Homo sapiens: one gene and its partners. The protein of the gene in region 3 interacts with the protein of the main gene of each other region in a biochemical or structural test. Each region holds a gene or a part of one and is shown on either strand. Other genes may lie near its edges. The genes, in order: PITX2, KMT5A, LEF1 and RNF138.

Region 1 (7,229 bases), 2.5 Mb from region 3:
CCGGCCTTTTATCCACCAGCATAGCCTCATGCCTTGCACAAATGCCACCCAGAGAGTGTCTTCATTCCCTCTGATTTGGGAGAGCATTTTGGTCTTTATTCTTTTTATCGTTGTTTTCTTCTTTTTGTTTGCTCTGCTCTAACCGGGGGCTTTATTTTTTCTACCCAGAGCACTTAATTTTTTTTTTTTAACAGCAAAGCCTCTGGATGCCGCTTGATTTGCTTGATTCTGTTTTCTGCTTCCAGAATCCTAACAAATTTGGAATCTTCCACCGACCAGCATAAACCAGGACGTTGCTATTGGGTTATTTATTTGAGCTCATTTTTGCCAATCCATAAAGTACAGATTTGCTACAAAGTTAAGGTAAGCCCTTTTTACAAAACTATGATTATAATTTAGAAGAGGGGGTGTGAGTTTCAATTTCCAGAGTTCAACTCCTGAGAGAAGATAAATAAACCAAGCAGAAAAGTCTTTCTTCTTTTTTTCTTTCTCCTTCTAAGAGGACTAGTAGTTGTGTATTAAAACTTTGCTCCCGGAGATCACAAAACTAGGAAATAGGGTGTGTGGGAGAGACCTGAATGGCCGAAACAACCGTAAAGAAGGTGTAAGAAGCGCGAGCCCAGGAGGGAAAAAGCTGGGCCAGGGCCGGGACAAAGGTTTCCCAGGGAGGGCCAACTCTTCCGTGTCTCTGGCGGGTTTTCCTTGTTAAAGGCTCACAGGTTGGAGCCTGTTCGCGGCTCTTGGCCTGGTAGGGATTTTATTAGCTCTGCTCTGGCAACTGCAAGCCAGGAACACAATGTCCTGTGCAGGGGATTGCCCATGCAGCCCAGCTCGTGAGATCGCGGGATGGCGGGGCAGTGAGCCGGTGCCGCTCTGGGAGCCTGAGCCAGGGCGGCAGTCCTGTCGGCCTCGGAGAGGGAACTGTAATCTCGCAACCAGGCCGCCGCGAGGCCTTCTGCCTTTGCAAAGCTGCGCCCCACCGGCGCCCTCCCAGGCGGCGCTGCCTTCCACATTCTCTCCTGGTCTACTTGGCCTGTACCTCCACAACATCCTCCCCCCATCCCTCCCAGACTCCGTGCTGGCTCCTACCCGGACTCGGGCTTCCGTAAGGTTGGTCCACACAGCGATTTCTTCGCGTGTGGACATGTCCGGGTAGCGGTTCCTCTGGAAAGTGGCCTCCAGCTCCTGGAGCTGCTGGCTGGTAAAGTGAGTCCGCTGCCGCCTTTGCCGCTTCTTCTTAGACGGGTCCTCGGCGCCCACGTCCTCATTCTTCCCCTGCTGGCTTTTATCTTTCTCTGAAAACGAAACACACACACTTTCCCGTCAGCATGCCCACCTGCAACGCGGACGCCAACTGGACCGGCGGCAGAAGCCGTGGAAGAGCTGGGCTGCCTGGCGCCGGAGGAGGGTGCGCGCGGCGGCTCCGGGCCGCGAGGAGCGCTGCGCCTGTGGGGTGTGCAGGCGCAAGTGTGGGTGTCCGCGCCCCATTTCCTCCCCTCCCCCAGCGCCGCACGTTTTATTTACATGTTTATCTCACTGCAGCGGCACATTCACTTTTATAGCCTGTGCTTTCAAGTATATTTATACACCTCTGCGCAGACACACCAAATCTCCTGGGACGCGCACACGCGCGTGGTTTACAGACCCCCCTCCCCCTCGCAGAAAGCTCAGATTTCCATGCGGTTTGGGAAGGCTAGGAAAAGATGTGGGGATTCGGTTGGGCACCGAAGTTCGCCGGCCCTTTCCCAAAAAAAAAAAAAAAATGCCTCTTCGCGAAGGGCATTTCTGAGTGGTTTCAGGCAATTTCCTAACGAGTGGAGCTCCTCGGGAGCTGAAAGCCGAGAGGAAAACAGGGACAGAGGTCGGCGGCCTCTGAAGGTCCTCGAATCAAGATGCTGGGATTTTTGTGACCCAGGAAACAGAAGGGAGGCCAGGGTACGAATAGAGAGGGCGGCAGAATTGCTCGCGCCCTTAGCGCCCCAGGAGCCGGGCCGGTCGAGGGAGAACTAAAGGGATGCGGGGTAGTCAAAATTCCGGCTCCCGGAAGTTCTGCGGGGAGCCAGGCGAACGACCACTCCCACCACGCCTCCCCCCGGAGGGGCTGACTTCCTTGGGGCGAGAGGGAGCGGGTGGCGCAGAGCAGCTGAGCGGGAATGTCTGCAGGGCGGCGCGGCGCCTTACCTGCGGCCTCCGGGCTGGAGGTGTCGGAGATGGTGTGCACCTCCAGCCTGTGCTTGGAGGAGTCCAGCGACCGGGGCTGACCGGGAGCCAGAACCGAAGCCATGGCTAACGGCTGGGGATGGTGACAGGAAGATGAGGAGACGGCCGACAGCTTGGTCCCCGCTGCTCGGTGCTCCAAGTGAAGCGGGCCTTTCATGCAGTTCATGGACGAGGGAGCGCGACGCTCTACTAGTCCTTGGCTACTGCCCCGCCGAGCCCCCGTAGCCGCCGCTGCCCGCTCCGGGTCGCGCTCTAGGCGCGGAGTTTCCCCGCTGCGGGGAGAGCCAGGGGACGCAACCCCCGCCGAGTTCTCAAGCCAAGCTGCCCCCGTCTCCTCCGGAAGGCTCAAGCGAAAAAGTCCGGAGACGGAAAGTCAGCGGGCAAACGAAGACATGGGATGTGGGCAGAAGGGCACCACTCAGAGCGTCTTTAGGGAGCAGGCTTCCAAGCTCCAAAGCGAAACAAGAGTGGGCAAAGACCCCCTTCTTCTCTCCCTCCCTCCCCCAAGAACCCCTCCAATAAGGAAAGCTAACGCCGACCGCGCTCTGCCCGCCCCCCCCCCACGCGGCAGCCCTGACAGAGAAGTGTCAAGAGTGACAGGGACAGGTAGGTGATATTAGATCCCCTGCGGCGGCAGCAGCCGCTGCAGCCACGACGCGGCCCTCTGAGCGCACCCTCCGCAACGCGCACACGCACACCCCTCGGGCGGTCGAACAGGAGCCGGGCCTTGCCGCAGCTCAGCTCCAGGCACCCAGGCGAGCGACGGACCAGATCTGCGGCTCCGCGCTTCCCTGTTGGCCTAACATCTTAAAACCAGAGGCGGGCTTCCTGGTGCCGAGACGTCACTCCGCCGCGGCCCTCCCCAGCCCTCTCCGCCTCCGCCTCCTCCCAGACCCTTCTCCGGGTGCGACTGACGTGGCTCCGCACCAATCAGGACGCCCCGAGCCGCGGTGGAGGGACTGTCCTGCCTGCACCTATCAGCAGTGCGGGGCCGGGCTACTGCCTCGCCGTGCGCACTGGGTCTACACAGGCAAGCTCCCGGGAATTCAGCTCCTGCCCAGCCCAAGGCGATCCGGCTTTTAGTACGAACCCAAAGGTGAAGAGATGAGGCTAGGAGTCGAAGGCTTGGGAGAAGAGAGTGGAATGGTCAAGAAGAGAAAGGTACAAGGATCAACAAGACACCCACTCTTTGTGTCTCACTACATCCATTTCCAATCCCCCACCCCATATAAAAAGGAGACACGTTACTTAAAACTAGAAAATTTGAAAAACAGCAACAAATCACCTCTCCGATCTTAAATTTTCCAAACAGCCTGTCAAGTGAATGCTGCGCTAATCTGAAGAAGCTTTAATTGCAAAGAAGACAGAGCCCTGAAAAGGCAGGCTAATAAATTAGAAATCGAGAAGCAAATGGACCCGTCAAAAGAAAATTACCTTGACTTTAAACGAACAACTGTTTGGTGGTTCACTCTGGATTTATACAAGAATAAAAAGTCGCCTCAGATCACGTTCTCTGTGATGCTTATTAGTCCCCAGACAGAAAACACACAATAGAAGAGAAACCCTAACCCAGCGTTTTCAAAATGCTGAAAGCTTATCCATTCTACTTAACGTTGATTAAGACACATATCCTAGATCTTTCAAATTCCTTGTACACTGTATTAAGCTCGTCCTAACCCGAGAGAGCCACGCTTTAAATTCGACTCTCTTGTTTACTTTATTATCAATCAGATTTAAATCCATAAAGCCTGTAGAATCAACAACCTTGAGCTAATTATATATGAAATATGCCTTAATGAATTTCCATACAATTAAGAATGTTGCCAAATAACCAATTTCAAGGATAATTTTTAACAGTCATTTTCTTTTCCCAGTGAGCTCAAGGCTGTCTTGAGCCATTAAAGTCCAAGCAGGCAGAAGGGGTGTGTGTGAGCTAAGGGCGAAAAGCCTAGAACTGCGCTCAACTAGCAAAAGCAAAACCTTATTTATATAAAACAAAAAAAATCACCTTTGGAGACATCAACTCTTTATAGCACTGTTTCCAAGCAAATTTAATTTCCAAAGAAATTAAAGAAAGAAATCCAAACATATTCAAAATAATTTTTGAAAGTCCTTTTGTCCCCCAGCATAGGTCAGCTGGAGAGGACAAACTAATCTCCTCTGGGTTTCTGCATGGGCGATTGTTTTACTATGGAGTTAGTGTTATCATCTCTGAATGTGTATTTGTTTGACATTACAGTCAATGATTTGCAATGCCAGCATGAAGTATCTTTAAAACACTCCCTCCTTGTCCTTGTTCACAAGATTGGGAAACTTATTCGATGTGGAACAAAGTGGATGAAGCAGACTACAAATATATTTGCAACTTATGTGTCTCTCCTTTGCCCTGACCACCCCCAAACCCTATCTGCAACTCCTCCCCATTTTAAACTTGCAGTCCAAAGACGCACATGAGAATTGTTTTTCAGTCTTTCTTCACCAGTATCATCCCACTTTAAGAATAATTTAGCTGCAAGGGAGGAATTTCTTCATAGTAAGCTTTAAATCAGCATTTCTGCTTTTAACCTTTTATTCCACTTTACCCCATTCCACACATACAGACACCTGCTCAGAGTAAAACACATCCTCATGTGACAGGTCTGCATTAGCTGAGGCTCATACATCCAGCTATATTAGGTCCTGCAATCTTATCACTAAATTATACACATTACACTAGCAGCCTGTTGGTAAAGAAGGTTAAATTAATTTACATTCTGCTCATTATCTGGTGCTTAAATGACGCATTTTATCCCGGAGATTTGGCGGAGAATCTCCTTCTCAGACCCCACAGCGTTTCACTGAAGACAATGCTCTTACATTTGTAGTGGTTTTTAATCTGATAAGACTCTAATTTGCTTAAGTCTTTTAAATAAGGGTTTTAAATGTTTCTAGCCGTTTTCTTATTGAATTTCCTCTAATTCCCCCAAGATCATAAAGTATATGTGTAAAGTAAATATTTCCTCCCATTGCACTGCCAGCCGATGACCTATAACTAAGTCAATAAGAATCCAGCTCTTTTCTGCTGAATGTGTTTACTAATCATATTCCAGTTTCTTCTTTTAAACCTCAGAATAGCTGTGGTCCCCACAATACCATGCCCCTTAAAGCTTCATTTCATGAAGGGACTCCATCACATTAAAGAATGAAAAAAATCTCCACTGTAGTTAGTATACACAGCCCCTCACTCCTTGTTTTTCAAGATTCAAACCCCAGAGCTGCAAATATTTTTGGAAGCTTGGGTGTTAATGCCTTATTTTAGAAAGCCGAGAAGCCCCACAGAGCCATATAGATTTCTAAACCCATCTCTCATAAACCCACAGAATTTTGATAAAAGCTCTGGTGGCTCCACTCTACCGATGGAACTTTCATCACGACAAATATACATGTATGAAGGACCTCAATCAGCCTCCAAAGTGGTTGAAAAACCCAAGGGCACGTGACTGCTCCTCATAGTGCCAACGTGTGCGAGATGTTGGAAGCACTGGGGATCAGCAGCAGCCTAGATGCCTAAAAAGATAAGGTGTCCTAATTTGTGTGGACCCATTGAAGTCAAGTGGTGAATAAAGACAATTATCTAGATAATTCAGATTAAAGTAAAAGCAAAACCATATCTATTTGTATATATATATTCACATCCATTTTATATTACAGACACACACACGCACACACACACTGGCTCTGTAAACAACTGACTCAAAGTGAGGATTTTCTTTGCATTTTTCCAGCAGGAGTTTCAACATTCTCCTAATCTCCTAATCACTTTACACACTCACAGCAGCGGCGATTGGGTGACATTCTTCTCAGGCCCCCTGTGTGGCAGGACACCAACATGATAAGTCTGCATGGGGAAAAGGAGGTATGTGGTGGGAACTAAGAAACACTGTCCAGTGAAAACTCTGTGGCATGGTGGTGGTTGATTTTGGAGATTTAATGTACATAAGACTTGTGGGTGCACAGGCATAGGCAGCATGGATGAGAAAGGGGCCAGAAGAAAATAAATCTTATGCATTTTGTGATTCCAGCATTACTGTGACCTCTGGCTAAGTTCTTCTTAATTGGTTTTAGAAATTACTATGAGTTCAGCCTCTAACACAGAAATTTCCAATACGGAGAACATTGGTGGGATCCTGGTAGGGAAACTAGAGGTGCTGCATGGCTCACGTGGGGCAAAGAAGGAAAGCCCAGTGCCGGCGTGAGGTTTTGAGTCTGGGAGACATCAGGGGTTGTCTCGATTGGGGTTTCTTGCTTATTCTTTCAAAGAAAGACCCTAGAGGAGGGAAATGTGTGACATGGGGTCAGCCGTGTTTTGTGCTGGTATTTGCCACCGATTACCAGTCTTAAAGTCTTATTTAATTTCACACTCTTCAGTGTTAGTTGTGCAAAGTCCCTCTGGCCATGGCAGTGAGCGGTTGGGCTGTGCCGCCAAACTCTCCGTATCAATCTGGCCTGGGACTCAACCAAGTGATCTCTGACTTTTGGAAAGAGTCTGTCTTCAGAGTTCACCCAGAAGATGGCTTAATTAGACATCTCCCTGAGCTGTTAGGCCTTAGACGGGTGGGAGTCCTGCCCTGCCCAAGCTAGCTCAAGGACGAGGCCCGCCTGGACTCAGCTTGGAGCCACGTGATGGGCGTGAGTGTGTGAGCTCCTGGTAAGGCGCAGAGGTCAGATGGAGACCTTGCATCCTGCCCGAGAAGTGCCCCACCCCCTCCAATATCTGGCTTTTCTCTGCATACAAACCAAGCTGAAAACAGTCCACTACCCACCACCCCTCATAGCTATGGAACCAAATAACCCAGAAATTAAAAGCTTCACTGTAGCTGTCCTTTTCCCCATTTCCTAAATGGAATTTAAAAAGCTCTGGCTTGTCAAAAGGGGAAGATTATTTTCTGAATTGGAAGTCTGTAGATATATTGAGCAACAGCCACCCTCTCTGGGTCCCTGCAAATGGTACCCATTTTTCCAACCCACAG
Region 2 (7,710 bases), on a different chromosome or scaffold from region 3:
GCTGGGCGCAGTGGCTCACACCTGTAATCCCAGCACCTTGGGAGGCAGAGGAGGGCAAATCACCTGAAATCAGGAGTTTGAGACCAGCCTGGCCAACATGGCGAAACCCCGTCTCTACTAAAAATACAAAAATTAGCTTGGCGTGGTTGCGCATGCCTGTAATCCCAGCTACTTGGGAGGCTGAGGCAGGAGAGTCACTTGAACCCAGGGGGGTGGAGTTTGCAGTGAGCCAAGATTGTGCCACTGCACTCTATCCTGGGTGACAGAGTGAGACTCTGTCTCCCAAAAAAAAAGAAAAGTCTGTATTTTTGGAGACCCCCCCACCAGGTGCTAAGGGATAATGAACTGAAGATGGCAAAATGAGGAGGGCAACCAACCAAGAGACCATTCAACAATGGCAGTAGAAATAGTGAAAGGTAGGTGGACTGACCCCTGAGACTAATATATTGGGGTTGTAAATATTTGCATGATTATAAAACTTCAAAATGAGTGAGGTGTTGCCTGGCATCTGACCAGTTTGTTTCTGTGACCCAGCAGGGCTCTCAAAGTGAATTGCAAGTTCAAAGCCCAATTTTCTAGAAGAAAAAGACTGTTCATTTGAAGTGCTGTAAATGATTTGGTATTTACAATTCTAAATATTGGCCAGGCGTGGTGGCTTTTGCCTGTAATCCCAGCACTCTGGGAGGCCGAGGTGGGCAGATAACCTGAGGTCAGGAGTTCAAGACTAGCCTGGCCAACATGGCGAAACCCCGTCTCTACTAAAAATACAAAAATTAGCTGGGTGTGGTGACAGGTGCCTGTAATCCCAGCTACTTGGGAAGCTGAGGCACAAGAATCACTTGAACACAGGAGAGGGAGGGTGAAGCGGGCTGAAATCACTCCACTGTACTCCAGCCTGGGTGACAGAGAGAGACTCTGTCTCAAAAAAAAAAAAAAAAAAAAAAATCTAAATCTAAATATCCAATTTAATAGCTTGCAAGGGCAGTAAAGCCTAAGAAACAGGTAACTACTAATTTGGGGGTCAAGTGAGACAGTGAGAATCAATAACTAATAATTACATAGGTGATTTGTAAGCTGCCATGGGAGGAGCTGACAAACATTATCTTCGCTTTGGGTAAGTAAGGGAGGTTGGGTGGCACAAGCAAAGACCCAGCCAAGCTAGAGTCTGGACAGCAAGTTTGGACTTCACGCTTCCTCTTCCAAAAAATGAGAATAACAATTTGTAAAGATCAATTGAGTTAATAAAGTGCCTGGCCCTCAGTGGTAATTATTATTATTTTGTTATTGTTCTTGTTTGTTTTTTTGAGATGGAGTCTTGCTCTGTTGCCCATGCTGGAGTGCGGTGACGTAATCTCGGCTCACTGCAAGCTCCACCTCCCAGGTTCAGGCAATTCTCCCTGCCTCAGCCTCCCAAGTAGCTGGGATTACAGGCATGCGCTGCCATGCCCGGCTAATTTTGTATTTTTAGTAGAGACGGGATTTCTCCATGTTGGTCAGACTGGTCTCGAACTCCCGACCTCAGGTGATCTGCCCGCCTTGGCCTCCCAAAGTGCTAGGATTACAGGTGTGAGCCACCATGCCTGGCCATAATTATTATTTAGTCATATTTTAAGTATTTCAATGATAGATGGTTAGTTTTCTTCATATATTAATTAATGCACTACTTTTAAAACAAGTAGTTTAAATGATTTTGCTGTGATGAGAAAAATGAACCCAGGAAGCATAGTTTTATTAAAATTTGTCAGATAAATTAGTCAGATAATGTTAAATATACTTTTAGATGCTTAACACTTTTCAAAGGAAAAATATTAGTATTAATTTTCTCCAAGAGTTGAGTGATGAAGCTCTTTAACCTGAAGTTTACTATGCCTCATTTTTTCATCAGGCTCTGGGTAAGTCTTATCCCAAAAGAACCTCTAGGGATGCTAGGAGAATAGATGATGCAACTGACTTCAGGGCCTGAAAACAAAGGGACCCAATAGATATTTACTGAATGAATCATTATTTTATTCATTATTATTGCTATAGGGAGCATACTGCACTAAAGCAAATTCCTACTAACACTTGAAGCCTTGAAATTTTGAGAAAAATATAATACCAAAACTTTTTTTTTTTTTTAATACTAATTCTACTCAACTTTCACGCTCAAGTTTTTGGCCCTTTGGCGTGAAGGAGACGCAGTGGCTGGAAATGACCAAGCGGTTGGAGATCTCTTTGCCGCATACCTGGGAGGCACTGTCCTGACAGCCAACTAAGTATGCAGAGGACTTCAGACAGGGCATCGCCTCCCAGGGCTGTACAAGCCCACCCAAGCCATCTACCGGGGGGCGAAGTCCTGACCAGATGCGGGGCGAACGACCGCGCCCGCGAGATGCCAGGAACCCGTTTTACCCCAAAGTGGGCCAGCGGGGCCCGGCCTTCGCTCCAGCGGCGCAGAGCTGACTCAGGACGTGGGGAGGGAGGAAAGGCGCCTGCTGCGGTGTCCACCCTGACGCGCACCCCAATATGCAGGTTATCGATCTGCGCCTTCGCCTCGGGATCACCTCCTTTCCCAAAGAGAGAGGGCCCCAAAGTGGGCGAAGCCTCACTCCTGCCCCCGCCCCACTTCTATCAATAACACCTATTCCCTGGAGGTGCCCTGCGCTTTAGTTTCCAAAGAGCTCTGACATATGGATCTGCTGCCGTGGAGAGGCAGGCCCGCAGGTGTTCACTTCATAGAAGGGAAACAGAAGCACGGCAGTGGGAAGGGTTTCTGGGGGCATCTGGAGCCGCAAGGGGGGGCCGGCGGGTTCCGCAGCAGCACCCCCTCTCCCCCCACGCGGGTCCCCAAGCTTGCCCCGAGCCACCCGAGGAGGACGCCTCCCCGCAGCCGCTGCCTCCACCCCGGCAACCCCTCCAGCACGACCCCCGACCCAGCCGCTCCGGTGCCGGCCACTTGGGCAAATACCTCTAGCCATGGCTCCACTCTGTCACCGCCTGGGATCTCCCGGGAAACCCAGCTTTCGAAAAAAGTTGCAACAACTCAGCCAACTGCTCCGCCGGGCTCCAGCTGCTCGCCCCGATTGGCGCCGCCTCCCGCCTCTCCGCAGGCTGCCCGTAGTGATAGGCCAACTCGGAGAAAGGCCCCGCCCTTCTCCCGCCTCTTCGGCGGCGGGGCGTGTCCAGCCGCCGCAATAACTGCAAACGCTTTCCCGACAGGTCCCGGCGGAGGAGGTGGGAGGGGTGTTTAAATTTGACCGTCGCCAGACGTTGAATGGCTGCGATGGAAGACACCCGAGCTGCCATTGGGAGGCCCCAGATTCCTCCCCCTCCCGCTGCTGAAGCTCCGCCTCCGGAGCGTGAGTAGCCCGGCTGGAGCCCTGGGCTCCGAGCCGACCGGATCTGGGACTTCCGGTTCTCTGTGGGCTTGACCGGAACCCGACCTTTGACCCCTCGATCTTCCCTTAAGAGCTGGGAAACCTGAGTCTCCCAGCAGTTTAGCAACTCCAGCACACCGACCTCTCCAGCAGTTTGATCCATTCATTCTCAGGTTTGAAAGGTTTTGGCCGGGCGCGGTGGCTCATGCCTGTAATCCCAGCACTTTGGGAGGCTGAGGCGGGCGGATCACCTGAGGTCCGTGGTTCGAGACCAGCCTGACCAATATAGAGAAACCCAGTCTCTACTAAAAATACAAAATTAGCCGGGCGTGGTATCGCATGCATGTAATCCCAGCTACTCGGGAGGCTGAGGCCGGAGAATAGCATGTAATCCCAGCTACTCGGGAGGCAGAGGTTACGGTGAGCCGAGATCGCGCCATTGCACTCCAGCCTGGGCAACAAGAGCGAAACACTGTCTCAAAAAAAAAAAAAAAAAAAAAGGTTTATTGAATATTCCAGTATTCAAAACCCGGCCGGGCGCGGTGGCTCACGCCTGTAATCTCAGCACTTTGGGAGGCCGAGGCGGGTGGATTACGAGGTCAGGAGATCGAGACCATCCTGGCTAACACGGTGAAACCCCGTCTCTACTAAAAATACAAAAAAAATGAGCCGGGCGTGGTGGCGGGCGCCTGTAGTCCCAGCTACCTGGGAGGCCGAGGCAGGACAATGGCGTGAACCCGGGAGACAGAGCTTGCAGTGAGCCGAGATCACGCCGCTGCACTCCAGCCTGGGCGACAGAACGAGACTCCGTCTCAAAAAAAGAAAAAAAAAAAAACCCACAGACACAACTCCTACCAACTAACTGGGTCAGTAGGGAAGGTCCTTCCAGGACCGCAAAGATCCTAATGCTTCACACCCACCCATTTTACAGATGGGGCAATAGAGGAAGCGGGTCACTTACGCGCTGCCCAAGGTCACCCAGCAATGTAATTGCAGGGCCTGGGTCAGTCTCTCCACTGTTCAAACACTAAATGGCTACCTTATCCCGAGGGAAGCAAGTATTCGCTGTTCCCCTCTGAGAGAGGGGGCTCAGTCAGTATGTTCCCAGAGAATCAGGTGTCCTGGAGTGTCTGCTTTGGACTCAGGGAAGGCGTCCAGTTACTACTGCTCTTCCCTGGGGCCCCTCCCAGGGGTGTGGGACGAGGTCACTAATCCATCCTGTCTCTTTGGTAATTGAAAAGGTTTTGGAGACCCAACCATTGCCCAAAGACTCTTCCAAAGCACCAGGAAAATAGGAAAGGAAAATAAAATGATATATGTGAAAGCACTGGGAAAGGTAGAAAAGGACACTTTTGTCACAAAGTCACTGTGTCACTTGGCACATCAGTTCAGCTCTCTGGCCTTCCATTTCCCTACCTGTCAAATGAAGGAGCTGGTGCCGTAATCTCCAACATGCCTTACAGCTTCCATAAATATGTGGAAGTGTGGCAGTGTGCAGTGGCTCTCACCTGTAATCCCAGCACTCTGGGAGGCCGAGGCAGGTGGATCACGAGGTCAGGAATTCAAGACCAGCCTGACCAACATGGTGAAAACCCCGTTTCTACTAAAAATACAAAAATTAGCCAGGCGTGGTGGTGCGTGCCTGTAATCTCACTACTCAGGAGGCTGAGGCGGAGAAGTGCTTGAACCCGGGAGGCAGAGGTTGCAGTGAGCCAAGATCGTCCCACTGCAATCCAGCCTGGGCACCAGAGCGAGACTCTGTCTCAAAACAAACAAACAAACAAACAAAAAATATATATAGAGAGAGAGGTGTTTGCTTTCTCCAAAATTGATTATTTCAACATTTATTGAGCTCTATGCCTGCCGCTGTTTTGGATCCCCCAAGGATCCGAAGGGAAAGTAGACACAGCTCCTTCCCTGCATTCTTTTAGGGAAGAAACAAGGCATTATTTAAAAGATAATTTTAAGGCTGGGTGTGGTGACTCACACCTGTAATCCCAGCACTTTGGGAGGCTGAGGTGGGCGGATCACCAGGTCAGAAGATCGAGACCATCCTGGCTAACACGGTGAAACCCCATCTCTACTAAAAATACAAAAAAAAAAAAATTAGCCGGGCGTGGTGGCAGGCACCTGGAGTCCCAGCTACTCGGGAGGCTGAGGCAGAGCTTGCAGTGAGCCGAGATCACGCCACTGCACTCCAGCCTAGGCGACAAAGAGAGACTCCATCTCAAAAAAAAAAAAAGAGAAAAAAGAAAAAAAAGATCATTTTGTTTATTTATTTTTATTTTTCTTGAGACGGAGTCTCTCTCTGTCTCCCTAGGCTGGAGTGCAGTGGTTTGATCTCGGCTCACTGCAACATCTGCCTCCTGGGCTCAAGCAATTCTCCTGCCTCAGCATTCTGAGTAGCTGGAATTATAGGCGCCCACTACCATGGCTGGCTAATTTTTGTATTTTTAGTAGAGATGGGGTTTCACCATGTTGGCCAGGCTGGATTCGAACTCCTAACCTCAATTGATATGACGGCCTCAGCCTCCCAAAGTGCTGGGATTACAGGCGTGACCCACTGCGCTCAGCCCAATTTTTGTATTTTTAATAGAGATAGTGTTTCTCCATGTTGGCCAGTCTGGTCTCAAACTCCTGGCATCATGTGATCCAGCTGCCTCAGCCTTCCAAAGTGCTAGGATTACAGGCATGAGCCCACCACCCCTAGCCTAAAAGATTATTTTTATTTTATTTATTTTTTAAGACAGGGTCGCATTCTGTCATCCAGGCTAGAGTGCAGGGGCACGTTCTCGACTCACTGCAACCTCCACCTCCTGGGCTCAAGCAATTCTCCTGCCTCAGCCTCCCAAGTAGTTGGGATTACAAGAGTGTGCCATCATGCCCACCTATTTTTTTTTTTTTGAGACGGAGTCTCGCTCTGTCACCCAGGCTGGAGTGCAATGGCGTGATCTCGGCTCACTGCAACCTCTGCCTCCTAGGTTCAAGCAATTCTCCTGCCTCAGCCTCCCGAGTAGCTGGGATTATAGGCATGCGCCAAAACACCCAGCTATTTCTTTTTTGTATTTTTAGTAGAGACGGGGTTCCACCATGCTCCCCAGGCTAGTCTTGAACTCCTGGCCTCAAGTGATCCACCCGCCTCAGCCTCCCAAAGCGCTTGCCTTACAGGCGTGAGCCACCGCGCCCGGGCATATTTTTGTATTTTTGGTAGAGAAGGGGTTTCACCACGTTGGCCAGGCTGGTCTTGAATTCCTGACCTCAAATGATCTACCTGCCTTGGCCTCCCGAAGTGTTGGGACTACAGGCGTGAGCCACACGCCCATCCAAAAGATTATTTAATTTAATTAATTTATTTATTTTATTTATTTATTTTTTGAGACAGAGTTTCACTCTTGTTGCCCAGGCTGGAGTGCAATGGCACAATCTCGGCTCACCGCAACCTCCACCTCCCAGGTTCAAGCGATTCTCCTGCCTCAACCTCCCGAGTAGCTGGGATTACAGGCATGCGCCACGATACCCAGCTAATTTTGTATTTTTAGTAGAGACAAGGGTTTCTCCATGTTGGTCAGGCTGGTCTCAAACTCCTGACCTCAGGTGATGATCAGTCCACCTCGGCCTCCCAAAGTGCTGGGATTACAGGGGTGAGCCACCGCACCCGGCCTATTTATTTTTTGAGACAGAGTCTTGCTCTATCGCCCAAGCTGGAGTGAAGTGGCAGGATCTTGGCTCACCACAACCTCCGCCTCCCGGGTTCAAGCGATTCTCCTGCCTCAGCCTCCCAGATAGCTGGGATTACAGGCACCCGCCACCACACCCAGCTAATTTTTGTATTTTTAGTAGAGGTGGGGTTTTGCCATGTTGGCCAGGCTGGTCTCAAACTCCTGACCTCAAGTGATCTGCCCACCTTGGCCTTCCAAATTGCTAGGACTACAGGCATGAGCCACTGCTCCCAGCCCAAAAGATCATTATAAATAGTGATTAATGCTATAAGGAAAAAAGGCAGGCCAGGCCTGGTGGCTTATGCTTGTAATCCCAGCACTTTGGGAGTCCGTGGCAGGTGTATCGCTTGATCTCATAAGTTTGAGATCAGCCTGGGTAATATCCACATTTCTACCCTGTTCTGTGATACAGAGCAGCAAACCATAATTCCCCGTTCTCAGTTAATGTTAGGTTCTTCCAATGAGAGCAGATAGAAGCAGTCTGGGAGGCAGGAGGAAGAGAGGGGACTTGTTCTTGCCTGTTTGCTTACTATTCCTAGCATGTTCCCCTCAGTAATAACACTGCCTCTGGCAGTAGTATTTGGTTCAGTCTCCAGGTTCTTTGTACACTCCCAGAGACAGCCTCCTTGTGCTCC
Region 3 (7,024 bases):
TAATGCATAATAAATGTAACAGATTCTTGTGTGTTTCCAAAGAATTGCTATCAAATGAATTACTCTTGTCTTGTAAAAACACATTCTGATCCACCCAGTGACATGGAGCACTGGCATCTGGAAGGTCACTCAGGCTGATGAGATTTGGCTCTTCATTTGGCAAAAAAAAAGGGCCTGGAAAGACAGGGACTCTCACCTTGTTTGGAGTTGACATCTGATGGGATGTGTGACGGGTGTGATCCTGGAGAAAAGTGCTCGTCACTGTAAGTGATGAGGGGGGTGAGAGGATGGACCGCATGGGATGGCTGCACCACGGGCACTTTATTTGACTGCAAAGTAACCACAAGGTCAATAGTTAATATGGATGCCCAGCTCCAGTCTTTTCTCCCAAAGAAAAAAATTCACACAGCAGCAGTAACCAGTCATCAACATAACCCAAGAATCACCTTCAGACCTGGACAGGTGGAAATGTCTCTTTTAGAATTTTTCTGAATTTTTCCATGGTAAATACTTCTCAAATATATGAATATGTCACTGATATTCATGAGTTATCAGTTATTTCACCAGTGACTCTTCAGGGATTTAGGTTGATCACTACTCTTCCATATGGCATGAATTTCTGTACATATATATTTATACTCTCTTTTAGATTATTTCCTCAGGTTAAGTCAATAAAGAGCGAATTACAGCAAAATTTATGAATGTTTTACAACATTTGTATTCACTACATATGTCTGGCACAAAAAGCAAAAAACTGTCCAATGAGCAAATAAATGAATAAATATTGCCAATTCAAAGGATAAATTTTTAAACCCAATAAATATAAATTTCCTATACTGATATCCCCTCAGCTTACAGAGTTCATAACTCTATGTTGTACATCTTTAAGAACCATGGTACACCATTCTTTCGAGTTTTATAGCTTTGTCAATCAAACAAGACTAGCCATTATGCTTTGGCCCTCCTCAGTTCATCTTCTGCTTCTCTAGTTTCCATAAACATTAATTGATAAAAAGGAATTTCCAATCTTGAGTTGAACTGCATAATATGAAATACTGTCTTTTTTTTTTGAGATGGAGTTTCACTGTGTCGCCCAGGCTGGAGTGCAGTGGTGTGATCTTGGCTCACTGCAACCTCCACCTTCCGGGTTCAAGTGATTCTCCTGCCTCAGCCTCCCAAGTAGGACTACAGGCACCCGCCACCACATTCAGCTAATTTTTTTTGTATTTTTAGTAAAGACAGGGTTTCACTATATTGGCCAGGCTGGTTTTGAACTCCTGACTTTGTGATCTGCCCACTTTGGCCTCCCAAAGTGCTGGGATTATAGGCATGAGCCACCGTGTCCAGCTGAAATACTGCTTTAATAATATTTTTAATTGTTAAAATTGTATATTTTAACACACTTTATATGTCTTATACTTGTTTACAGACATTTTATTATTTAATTTGGAAGTCAACAGTCACACTTTTTAATTCAAGTTATCTAATTGGACTTCATCAATTTGAAATCTGTGATTACTTTGGTTACAAAGTTAAGGTTGTTCCCCCCAACCCAAAAGTGCTTACTAAGTAATTAAAAAATATAAAGAAGACTTAAGTAGGTTTAACCTAATTAGTAAAATCACTTATTTATTTATTATTTATTTTTTATTGATATGGCATAGCTGTAGAAATTTTGTGGTATATGTGATATTCTGATACCTGTATAAAAGGTGGAATGATCAAGTTAGGATAACTGGGATATCCATCACCTCAAACATTATCTTTCCTTTGTGTTGTGAACATTAAAATTCTTCCCTTCTAGCTATTAAATAATCTATTGTTAGCTACAGTTTCTCTACTGTACATACTACAACTTATTCCTTCTATCTAACCGTATTTTTATACCCATTAACAACTTCTCTAGGGGAATCATTTTAAAGAGACTCAATAAACCCTTCACCAAAGAAAAAGGGACTCAACACAATTATATACCTGTTAAAGGTGTTTGTTTCTGATTTTAAACTAATCTAATAATTAAAGCAGTTGCAGGAAAATCTCTACTTAAAAACACTATAGTAATGGGTAACATGAATTTAAGAGAAAATTGAGCATATCATTATGCTCAATTCACTAGTTCAGACATGTCTTCATCATAATTAGTTTGAATTAGTAAGATCTTACTATATTATTGACTAAAATGCATGTGAAATCAGTTTTCTCCTGAAGCAAATATTCATATTTTTTAAAAATTTGAGGAAGTGCCTAAAACTGCACAATGTGAACTGCTTAAAATGTAAGTCCATATCTGAATGGTTAAAGAGGGCCCCCAAAACACACTTGTGTATGGTGGCTGTACCTACGACATACACTAATTTTGAACTTAATATTTTTTACAAATTAGCCATAAAAAATATGTGGCTCCAATGAGAAGGACTCCCCTTAGAAAAATTAGAATTCTTATACCCTATCTTATAAGAAAAATTAGTAATTCTTCTTATACCCTATCATTACAACCTCCATCCAAAAGAAACTTACGGGGGGGGGAAAAAAAAGGAAAAAAAAATCACACTTTTTTTGGAAAATGATATAATTTCCATACTAGATTTTCCCTATTTTATAATTATCAGCTCTTCTTTAATGGCAAAACTTGCATAGCTCATATAGCTTTTTTGGCGTATATTAAATAGAGTGCCATTATCATAGCCACACAATTTTTCTCTACACACCTCAGCACAAACATCTATGCATATAAATGTGTAAAAGGTTAAACAAATCTTCTAATGCTTTTCGAGTGTTAATGACACAGTTTTCCAAATAACAGAATAAGCTTCTTAAATACATGGAATTTAGAATGCTAGAAGTGGGGGTGGGTAGATGTGAGGATAGGAGGAGTTTATTATGAACTCTTTTGAAAATGGAAACACAAATCTCAACGCCCAAATGTTAAAATCGATAGATTTCAAATATACTTTAGAATAATGGCTTTCAGTTTCATTTTAAAAGTCTCATAAATAAGCATAATTGCCAAACAATCTACAAAGATATTTTCTTAGGGTACTTATAAAGAGTAAACACTGTGGAAATCTTCTGGATATATTCTTTCTTTCCAGAGCACCACCTTAAGGAACTTGCATTAGCAGGCAGCATCTTCTTAATGTCTGACCTATCCCTCCAGTCATATAGCTCAGAATCTGGTGCCATGAATTTTTGCTAAATTATGCTATCCTTGCTCTCCTCTTAATTTTACGGTTTTCAACACAGATTTGCTTTCCTGTGGGAAAGAGATAAGAAGCCGAGGATTTTAATTTAAGCCTGGCCTTGTCTTATATTTTGCAAGATGGATAGCGAAAGCAGTACTAGTAGGTGTGTTAAAGCCAACAAGGATTATGTCCATTTTTGTGGCCAAATAATAAAAGTAATATGAAATTTCAATAGCATGTGTGAGCAGAATTCCAAGGGTTATGGTTTGCTTCCTGCCAACCATCTCCACTATGTATATAAACAGAACAAAGTGGATTCCAACTTACACTGCGGATATGTGGCACATCATCATCACAGTCAAGATTCCTCAGCCCAAAAATCTGCAGGCTTCCTCTGATTTCACAAGTTACTGCCCCTTGACACTATGTGCACACACAAAGTGAGAACCCTGGCACTGCTACTTTGGTTAAGTTTTAAGACAGCCAGTAAAACCATTCTTAATTCCATTCATTTAATCTCCTAATAAAATGTGGTATATATTTTCTTGTGGGGAGTAGGTAAGCGGAAGAATAATCAACCAACTATCTAAGTGTTTGTAGACAAATTAAGTGGCTACATCACATGCAGAGTTATACATGCCCGTGTGCATATGTGTGTATTTATTAAGCACCTAAAATGTTTCAAGCACTATTCTAGCACCAATGACCAACACACAGATAAGGTCTCTAATTCTCGCAGCTTACTTTCTGGGGCTCTGGAAGTGGCGTCAGGCAGCAGGGGGTGGGTATTGGAAACAATGAATATGTAAAAAAAAAAAAAAAAAAAAAAAAAAAAAAAAGACAAGCAAAATCTGAAAAGGCAGCATCAAGTACTATGAAGAAAATGAACCTGGTGATAGGAGAAAGTGTGTATCTAAGTATATGCCTTTTTATTATGTTTAAGCTCTAAGAAACCTAAAGTATATTTAGTAGCTTATTTTAGTTCCTTATTTTAATTTTACAGACTGGAAGCCGAGAAACAGAGGTCACCAGGGAATGGGTAGGTCAAGCCAGGACTACTGTATAAAATAGTACAGTCCTGCTCACTACACAACTCCAGTAACGCAGGGACACTGAATACAATGGGAATGAACCCCCTGGGCTGCCCAATACAGTGGAATCAGCAGTAGAAAAGTTCGATCCTTTTGGCTCTTACTCTGTGCTGGCTACTGTACACATAGTAAGTACCTCACTTAATAGAACCCAAGTCTCCTGATTCCTACTCGGGTGCTTTTCCTACTACACATCTCGCTGTAAGGGAGGGAAGGAGGGAGAGAGGGTAAAAATCACCTGCTTTTTGATTCACAGATACAATCAGGTAAGTCTTAGCTTCCAGTTGAGAATCACCAGGTAGTCCCAATATGTGCTCTGTTTCATTATCCCAGGGTCACAGGATGCACAGTTACTCCAGCTTTACGAGATACCTGGCAGCCCTGTCACCCCAAATTCTCCACTTCTGGTCAGAGGTTCAGTGACTTGTTTAAGCTCACAAGGCAGTAAGAGTTAGGCCAAAACCCTTGGTTTCTGATTCCAACTGCACATTCTTTAATCTCAGGCAGGTGATTGGTGGGTGAGCAAAGGAAAAGACAAAAAGAGTAGATACTTAAAAAAGAAAAAAAAGAAAGAAAGAAAAGGGAGAAAATATCAAGGATGGCTGTTTAGGGAGAAGCTTGAAACCCTTTCTTAAATTTGCAAATCACCATCAGGCCAACCTACCCACATAATACATAGTAATTACAGCAATTAACACTTACCAACTGCTTACTGTGTGCTAAGCACTTTATCCTCACAACAGCTTTGAGGCAGGTACTATTATTATCCCCCTTTTACAGATGAGGAAACAGGCATGGAGAAGAAAATATTCTTGAAGGGTATGTGCTCTAGCAAGCAGCCAAGCCAGGATTCAAATGCAGAAGTCTGGCTCTAGAGGCCAAGCTCATTACCTGTACATCATGTGGCCTTCCTGAAAGCCAAGTTCATAAAATCTTGGACACTGAGGTGACCATTTGGGCCACACCTGAGAGCATGTGACATCTATGAAATGGCTGTGTGGTCTCTGTCCCAGGCACAGGAATCACTTGAGACAAAGAAGCACCTCAGCAGAAGTGGGTAAAGCTACGGAGACTCAACTGCAGCCTTTCTCTCCAGGACTGGAAAACATGCCAAGGAAGCTTGGTTGGCTGCCACCCAGGCTGGTCCCTGCAGGTAAGGACCTCTTTGGCATCACAGCCAATAAAACCCATACCTCCTGTGGACACGAAGTGGGTGCCACTTAGGGATCCTGAGAGCCACCCCCAAAGCAGCATTCCCAGAAATGACCCACTCACCACTGGCAGGAATTGAAGGTGTCATGAAAGCTGTTAGCCTCAGAGGATGTGGTTCTGGGAAGAACTAAAAAGGTGGTTCAACTCCCTACTGGCTAAGGCCTGGGGCCTCCTGGATAGAGGAGTAACTGGGGGAGAAACCTGCTGTCCTGGTAGCTAGTCCTCATTTTCCACATCTCCAGGTTCTAACTAAACTAAACCCAAAGTGCGGGATCTGGCTGTGCATAAAGGTCTGGAGTTTCAACTGGCTGTGCATTTAATCAATAATCTTCTGGTAATAACTGAATCCAGGGGAATTTTAACACTTCATCAACTTATTGAGATGAGGAATTTCATCTGGCCTTGATTGTTATGGTGGCATTTTTGCTTTTCATTAAACACTTCAGAAGTCTGGTACTCGTGACATAAAGCCATGTAACTTCATGCTGCGCCTTTCCCTCCTTTTCTGAGAATCTGAGCTTCTCAAGCCTTCCCAGAAAGAGAGGCAGATTTACTCCAAAAGGATACATTGATTCTTGCATCTAGACCTCAGAAACAAGGTACTGGAAATATTTCCTAAGATCCACCAAAGCCAAACACCTGCTTCAGGTCTGATGTGGCTTTCAAATGTAAGACCCCCTACTGGTGGTGATGCAGCTGCATTTTTCAGATAAGAACGAGGCCCCAGGATCTTAAGATTCAAACGGTCCATGAGCCCAACTCTGGAGGAAAAGGGATGGTCTAGAGACCTGCACCATCATCAGACAACTGAAATGTTTTCTTAAGAGGGGAAGGAACATATCACAGGGAAAGGAATTAACATGGGTTGCACAGTTAGTAAGTACCAGTCATTACAGTAGCGCTTTTATATACTCTGGCACTCGTCCATGTAAGTGGGTATTATTACCCCCATATTTATAGATGAGAAGGCTGAGTCTTTTTGAACACAGAGCTAAGTAATAATTAGTGGAGAGAGGATCTGTGCCGGCATTTGTTTGATACCAAAGTCCCTGCTCTTCCTGCCCCACACTGTTTGGTGCTCAGCTCCTCTCTCCATCTCTATTCCAAACTACCCCCCAACCAAGTGAATGTGGCCTGCTGTGGCCTCAACTGTAATGAAGCATCTAGAGAGGAACAGTGGACCACTTGGAGAAAACTGATATTACCAGAGGCAATCAGACTACAACAGAATGCTGGAAGGGCTCCCTTTTAAAACGCATGGAAAACCCACTATTCTCCAAGTTCTCTGTAAGGTGGTGAATTCCAAACATTACGTCATTTAATCCTAAAGCCATACCTAAGTTAGGTGTTAAGATTTCTGTTTTATCGAGAAGGAAACAAGGCTCTGGGAATAATTCATTCTGGGAGCCAAAAGGAGACCCATTGTTTTCAGTAACTGGAGCCTGTAAATAGAGGGACTGGGGTTAAGGTTAGAGGCTGAGGAAAGATCAGGGTAAAGGAAAAATGACATCTAATTATGTAAAGTTGCAACATCCTATT
Region 4 (7,024 bases), on a different chromosome or scaffold from region 3:
AGGCTTACAAATCAGTCAAAGACTGAAATTATCAAATGCCCATGAAAGAAAGAAATTTTTCTCTTTGTATTTCCTTCTAATAACAAAAAGAAAATATCTTTACAACAAGCTTTCACTTTTTAAAGAATTAAAATTATTACAGAAATCTCACTAGTCTTCAAAAATAGTAAATGTTATATAAATACAATTTTCTTATAGTTGAATTTTTCAGCTAGAACCTGCATTTAAAAAATTTCCTTTGGATTATTCCATTTAGCACTTCAAGTTTCTATTCTGCAACTCTAATAATAACTGGCTCAGATTTGTTAGGTTATATCAATCACATCGTTCAAAATTTGCTACTGTGTGTTAAATGTGTACAATAATAAAGTAAATGGGAGGAATGCATCAAATTTCAAAAGCAACATAATAATGAAAAATTCAAAAATAATATTACAAAAAGATAAAGTACAACAGGGATTCTCTTTCACCGTTACATTAGTGAAACATCTTTTTTACACCTTTAAAGCTAATGTCATAACTTTCATTTTTTAACTTATCAAGATGATGAAGTTTTTAGAAGCCCTACCTTTATTTTCAATCAAAAACTAAAATGACTGAATTACTTTTATTAATATACACATCAAGTTACTGTAACGGTGACTTCATGTAGTTTCCCCCTTAAAGATGGCACTTGCAGGTACAAAGATGCAGAGATGTCTACAGCCTTCAGATGTTTACTTGAAAAGATTCTTCAACAGCAGTTTGGTATTGGGTTTCTTCATCTAGCTGAAGATTCTAAAAACAATAACATTCATGTCAACAGGAAAAACATATTCAACTACTCTAATACTTTGCCCAAAACATTAGACATCTTGATACACATTACACATCTTGACACACATTACACACACTCAGGACAGTTATGTAAAACATATATAACAGTATCTTTTAAGATACAAGATTTGAATACCTGAACTTTAATAAGACATTAAGTTCAGTTGTAACTGTTCAAGAATAACAAACAAACAGAGAGGATCATCACAGAACAAAATTTGAGTGTTATAATGCCTTTATAAGTCATTCATAAAAAATATGGTTAACTGGAAAGCTGGGTAAGCATGCGCCTGTAGTTGCAACTATTCAGGAGGCTGAGGCAGAAGACAGTTTGAGCCTATGAGTTTGAGGTCAGCCTGGGCAACACAGGGAGACTGTCACTTTAAAAAATAAAAATAAAAAATGAAAAATAAAACTGAAGTTAATCATAACACACAATCATAAATGTGTCATCTCTAGAAAATAATGCCAAATATCTGACAGTAAACTGATTTTAAGAAAACAAGCATTTATTGAATTATGAGTTGAGTAAGAAATTTTTTGGGGGGCAGTTTGGCTCTGTCACTCAGGCTGGAGTGCAGTGGCACAATCTTGGCTCACTGCAACCTCCACCTCCTGGGCTCAAGCAATTCTTGTGCCTCAGCCTGCCAAGTAGCTAGGATTACAGATACGTACCACCACACCCAGCTAATTTTTGTATCTTTAGTAGAGACAGGGTTTTGCCATGTTGGCCAGGCTGGTCTTGAACTGCTGACCTCAGGTGATCCACCCGCCTCGGCCTCCCACAGTACTGGGATGACAGGCATGAGCCATCATGCCCAGATGAGTAATAAATTCTTAACCATAACATGAAGCCTACAGCTTATTCAATCGTTATAAAACTACTCCTTAATTTAAAAAATTATATTTGCTATCAATTTTATGCCCTATGCATTTCGCTTTAAAATCAAGGCCTCTATTTGACAATCTGAAATAATTAGATCACCTACTTTTCTTTTTTGAGACGGAGTCTCGCACTGTCACCCAGGCTGGAGTGCAGTGGCGTGATCTTCACGCACTGCAAGCTCTGCCTCCCGGGTTCATCCCATTCTCCTGCCTCAGCCTCCCGAGTAGCTGGGACTATAGGCACCTGCCAACACACCCGGCTAACTTTTTGTATTTTTAGTAAAGACGGGGTTTCACCGTGTTAGCCAGGATGGTCTCAATCTCCTGACCTTGTGATCCACCCACCTCGGCCTCCCAAAGTGCTGGGATTACAGGTGTGAGCCACCAAGCCCTGCCTAGATTACCTACTTTTCTATGGCAAGATAAAACAACTTGACAATTAGATCAAAAGTGGTTCACAAATTTTTGTATTTCCAAATACATTACATAGCAATCTTTCTTACAATGAGAATTTAATAATAATCTAGAATTACTTTATAAAATTGCTAAAGCAATAAAGCGCACCTAAATTTTACATATATTTGAATTTTTATTTTGAAATTGGCTAAATAATGCAAATTCTACAAAATTTAAAAACCATTTAACAAGAATGATGTAATTTCAACACTGGAAGGCAGACAAAAATGTATATTTTGTTCATGTCACTCTGCTTACCTAAACTGGAAAACAAATAGCCATTCTTTGTCAGGACTAATCTTAAATAAAGTTTTGATTAAACTGAAGTTGAATAAAATGCAATTTAATAATTAATAAAACAGGTTTTCACCTAATTAAAAAAGTATATCACACATTTAGAAGTACAAATTAATCCATTTTGCTTTATGAATTCATTTTTACATTATATAACTTCTCTTACACTCTTAGTCTCTTTGTAACCTGGCTTTGCCTGATAACTAAGCTCCCTCATTTTTAAAAACGTTGTGTCTTACATGCTAGATTTGAGAAATCTAAGATTTCTAGCATAATACAAGCAACTTATACTACATGAGAAATACATCCTCCATATGTTGTACCAATTTTACTTCTCTTGTAGGTACAATTTTCCCTTAAATCTTGACAGAGTTTTCATGTAAATCATCATTTTGTTAATCTGGGTGCTTGCTGTTACTCTTATTAATTCTCTCTCTAGTACAGGAGGTGGAGAGTAAACTCAATTTTTACCTTACCATTTCTACAAGCTAAAGTTCACCAGTATTATTAAAAACCTAAGAACTTGCTCTAAATCCATCCAGTAAGATACAACAGCTTGCCACAAAATTTAAGTCGATTACAAAAAAGTTATTTTAACTTTAATATTTAAACAGTACTTTCTTAATCTTGAAGAATTCACTTACCACAAATTCTCCATAATCAAATTGATGTCTCTGATTTAGATGACTAACGAAATTTCTGGTAATCTGGCTAGGATCTCCCCAAGGAAGAGACACACAAATAGGACATGTCTATAAGAAACAGATTGTTTTAAACAAAAAATAATAAAAACAATGAAATATTATACAATTGACAGTATTAAAATAACACAGGGATATGTTACCAAAAATATCTACGTGAGAAGCATTTTTAAAGGCCAAGTTCCATGACTAGATCATTTCCCAATCAATTACCTTAGATAAATGACATTAATCTAACACAGTGAGAAATCTTAGACATTCTATTCCTTAAATCTCTTATTACACAAATGTTTCAACAGAAAAACCACATCTAGCTTTTAATAATACCAACTGTAATGACAGTTATCACTAACTGGCTGCCTGCAACATATCCAATATATTATCTCATTTGATCCATACAATAACCATATAATTATTATTAGTTTTATTTCATTTGTAAGTAAAATAAAAATGAAGTAAACTGGAAAATTTACTTTAAATTGTATCCTTAGTTTTTCTTTTCTTTTCTTAAAACTAGAGACACAGTCTCACTGTTGTCCAGGCTGGGTCTCAAATTCCTGAGCTCAAGCAATCCTCCCGCCTTGGCCTCCCAAAGTGCTGGGATTAAAGGCATGTGCCACCACACCCAGCCATATCCTTACGTTTAAATGAAGTACATCTTAAAAACTGAATGGATAAATAACTGAAATAACACACAAAAAACCTTCAGTAATTAAACTCTAGCCAAAGTTTATGATATATCGAATATTATGCAGAAATGAATAAAAATTTGGTAATCCAATATAAAACTAAGTAAAATCTTAAATATGAGCGAGATTTCCTGGAACATCTTTGGCACTGTATTTGTCTATTTAAGCATAACTGAACCCATTCTAATAAGCAAAGTAGGTAGTACACCTTCTTAGGTGGTATGTGAGAGCTTAAGGTCATCCTCAATGGTTATTGAAGCATATTCTTTTTATTTTCTTTATTTTTAAATAGACAGGGTCTCACTATGTTGCCCAGGCTAGTCTCGAACTCCTGGGCTCAAGCAATCCTCCCCTCTCGGCCTCCCAAAGTGCTAAATTACAGGCATGAGCCACCGTGCCCGGTCCTGAAGCACATTCTTTCACAACTTTTCCTAGCATACTCACTAAAACAGCTTAGAAATATCTACAGTTCTTATTGATAACATTTTCCTTCCTATTCTCCTTTCTGAAGACAATTATTTATATATCAAAATGTTCAGCTGAAAGGGAAATCTCTCTCCCAGCTCAGTTTCTCCTGTTCCATTCACAGCTGAAATAACTTACCTATGAAACACTTCTAGGATCATTATATGTTGGAATCCTGAATTCTGCTCTATCTCCCTCATTATCAAAAAGCTCTCACCATTTTCTTACATACCCTCAAAATGTCAAAAAATATGTAGGCATCAAATACAAAGTCTAAGTCTTTTCCTTCCTTGCTTTATGCATTCACATACTATATGCTGCAAGAAAACAATAAAAATACCTACTGACTTTATTCTTACTTACAGGTATTTTCACCTACAGCAATCTACCTGACTAGATCTACTTGTCTGCCATCTACAGAGCAAGTAACTGAGGCCTCAATAGACAGGTTGTGCTACTGCGCAGGAATGAGTTCCCGGTTCATCTTTCATTACTTCACTCTTCTCCAGACTGTGCTATATTACCTCACACTATGCATCTCCCTTTTTATAATGAGAGTTACTGCAATTTTAAATATCTCATTTTGCTTCACAGTCATCAATCCTTTGTTGACAAAAATCTACCTTACTGATAATGCCCCAACCAAATATAAATCAACTACTTTCTCTTGCATACATGAAGTGAAATAAATAGAACAGCATGTTTTATTCTAAGCAGAAGACTGTCTCAAACGTATGTACTTACCACAGGAACTATCTGAAATAGGTGATTACTGTTACAGTGATCCAGTAAACGCTGTCTGGTAAAATTTGATTCTTGACACAGGGGACACTTAAAAGTAGGATGACCAGAAGAACTATAAAACAATTTTAAGTGAAACATACTTAATTCAGAATAACACAAAAATAACGCTCTCCTATTTTTTGAGGAATCACTATACATTTTTTAAAAAAGTTATAATTATTAGACTATTCAAAGATTCTCTCATTTTGAACATATGTATTCAGGAAATGATGCATTACAGAGGTTCCCAATCTCAGTTTACAGTACTCTTAGTGTCCTCAATAAATTTTTTCATGGCACCTCTAGGCCAAAACAAAAACAAAAACAAAAACCTAGCTGACTCCATATATTATGTAGTTAGGTCCAAACTTAATTGTAGTTGTTTTCTGATGCCAATAGCTGTCACTGTATGTCCCTTGAAAATTTTTAATATTCTGTAGTATTCCACATTTTGCAAACCTTTTATCTAGGAACTTAAAACTTCTAAAAGACTTCCATCAATATCGTATCTCTAATAAATACCAGGCCCTAGGAATCCAACATCCAAAATTCAAAGGAAAAGAAAAAACAAAAGCACTGATCATGAGAATGAAATACTCGAAAACATTCTGAGGATCAAGCATCACTGAGTTTTAATACTTCTGAATTTCAGGAAGGGACAGTTCAACACAGACAACTTTACCTGAATCGTGTGTGGAAGAAACCTGACCACAGTGAAAGAGAATAACTAAACTCTTCTAACCTAATGTGATTCTTAAAAGCAGTAACTGCATTTTCTATTTCTAAACTGCTAACTTCAAACACTATGCCTAATGATGTAACTGATTTTTTTTTTTTTTTTAAGTTTAATTTATGGCCAGGCGCAGTGGCTCATGCCTGTAATCCCAGCACTTTGGGAGGCCAAGGCAGGTGGATTATCTGAGGTCAGGAGTTCGAGACCAGCCTGGCCAACATGGTGAAACCCTGTTTCTACTAAAAATACAAAAATTAGCCGGGCGTGGTGGCAGGCACCTGTAATACCAGATACTTGGGAGGCTGAGGCAGGAGAATCACTTGAACCTGAGAGGCGCAGGTTGCAGTGAGCCAAGATCGCACCACTGCACTCCAGCCTGGGAAAACAAAGTGAGACTCCGTCTCAAAAAAAAAAAAAAAAAGTTTAATTTAAAAAGCTATTTGATAAGTGATAAATATAATATTACTTGCTAAAGTGGCAGGATTTTTCAAAAGCTTACCTTGTATTCTCTTGGTAAGTTTCTGTGTTATCAGATGTGGATGTTTCACTCCTATTGCTTAAGAAGCACAGGGGAAAAAGTTAATACCTCAAAGTAATGAAAACACACTAAAGGTTCATTATCTTGAACCATTAATGAAGAAGACTAGTCTGAATTTGTTTTAAAAGTCTGAACTTCAATACACCTTTTTCCTATTGGGTCCTTGAAAAAACAAAATTTGAACTTCAAATGGTTCTGAACTATGAAATAATTACAATATTAATTACTTTTAAATAAATTGACTGCTTACTAGATTCTTATTTATGTTCTTTAAAATTAACTTATGCACAGTTACAGAAGTATAGAGAATTTTGCAGAATTACCTTAAATCCCATTCCTCTACCTTTACCTAGACTAGTAAGGTTTTAAATGCTACGGTAGACTCAAGAATTTGTGAACTTTTTTACTTCAAACTAGGACATGGTATAAGGTTATGCCCTCCAAAGTGCAGTAATTTAAGAAAATATGTAAATGTTCATTATGTTTGTATTTTATTTCCAGAAAGGAAAGAAACCAGGCTTCACTAACATTTAATATACAGAACAACTTAACATCTCCACTTTTACCATATGCCAGAGAGTCATGTGTCACATGGAATATCAGAGGAATCCTGAGGGAAGAGTAAGTATTCCATACAGGGACCGTCACCTGTGTGCTACAGAAT

What was found.
Region 1: the proteins of LEF1 (region 3) and PITX2 form a complex in vitro, tested with the Homo sapiens proteins (one study listed by BioGRID).
Region 2: the proteins of LEF1 (region 3) and KMT5A form a complex in vitro, tested with the Homo sapiens proteins (one study listed by BioGRID).
Region 4: of the proteins of LEF1 (region 3) and RNF138, one has a biochemical effect on the other in vitro, tested with the Homo sapiens proteins (one study listed by BioGRID).

Annotation. Positions count from the first base shown.
Region 1 is NC_000004.12:110,620,075-110,627,303, forward strand, and holds the start of PITX2 (pituitary homeobox 2), read right to left. Parts: upstream 3,004-7,229; 5' UTR 2,387-3,003; coding exon 2,182-2,386; intron 1,560-2,181; exon of another isoform or gene 1,525-1,559; intron 1,296-1,524; coding exon 1,090-1,295; intron 1-1,089. UniProt on the Homo sapiens protein: May play a role in myoblast differentiation. When unphosphorylated, associates with an ELAVL1-containing complex, which stabilizes cyclin mRNA and ensuring cell proliferation.
Region 2 is NC_000012.12:123,379,446-123,387,155, reverse strand, and holds the start of KMT5A (N-lysine methyltransferase KMT5A), read right to left. Parts: upstream 3,025-7,710; 5' UTR 2,958-3,024; coding exon 2,948-2,957; intron 1-2,947. UniProt on the Homo sapiens protein: Protein-lysine N-methyltransferase that monomethylates both histones and non-histone proteins. Specifically monomethylates 'Lys-20' of histone H4 (H4K20me1).
Region 3 is NC_000004.12:108,088,929-108,095,952, forward strand, and holds part of LEF1 (lymphoid enhancer-binding factor 1), read right to left. Parts: intron 330-7,024; coding exon 197-329; intron 1-196. UniProt on the Homo sapiens protein: Transcription factor that binds DNA in a sequence-specific manner. Participates in the Wnt signaling pathway. Activates transcription of target genes in the presence of CTNNB1 and EP300.
Region 4 is NC_000018.10:32,122,872-32,129,895, reverse strand, and holds part of RNF138 (E3 ubiquitin-protein ligase RNF138), read right to left. Parts: intron 6,379-7,024; coding exon 6,322-6,378; intron 5,163-6,321; coding exon 5,051-5,162; intron 3,204-5,050; coding exon 3,096-3,203; intron 778-3,095; coding exon 709-777; 3' UTR 1-708. UniProt on the Homo sapiens protein: E3 ubiquitin-protein ligase involved in DNA damage response by promoting DNA resection and homologous recombination.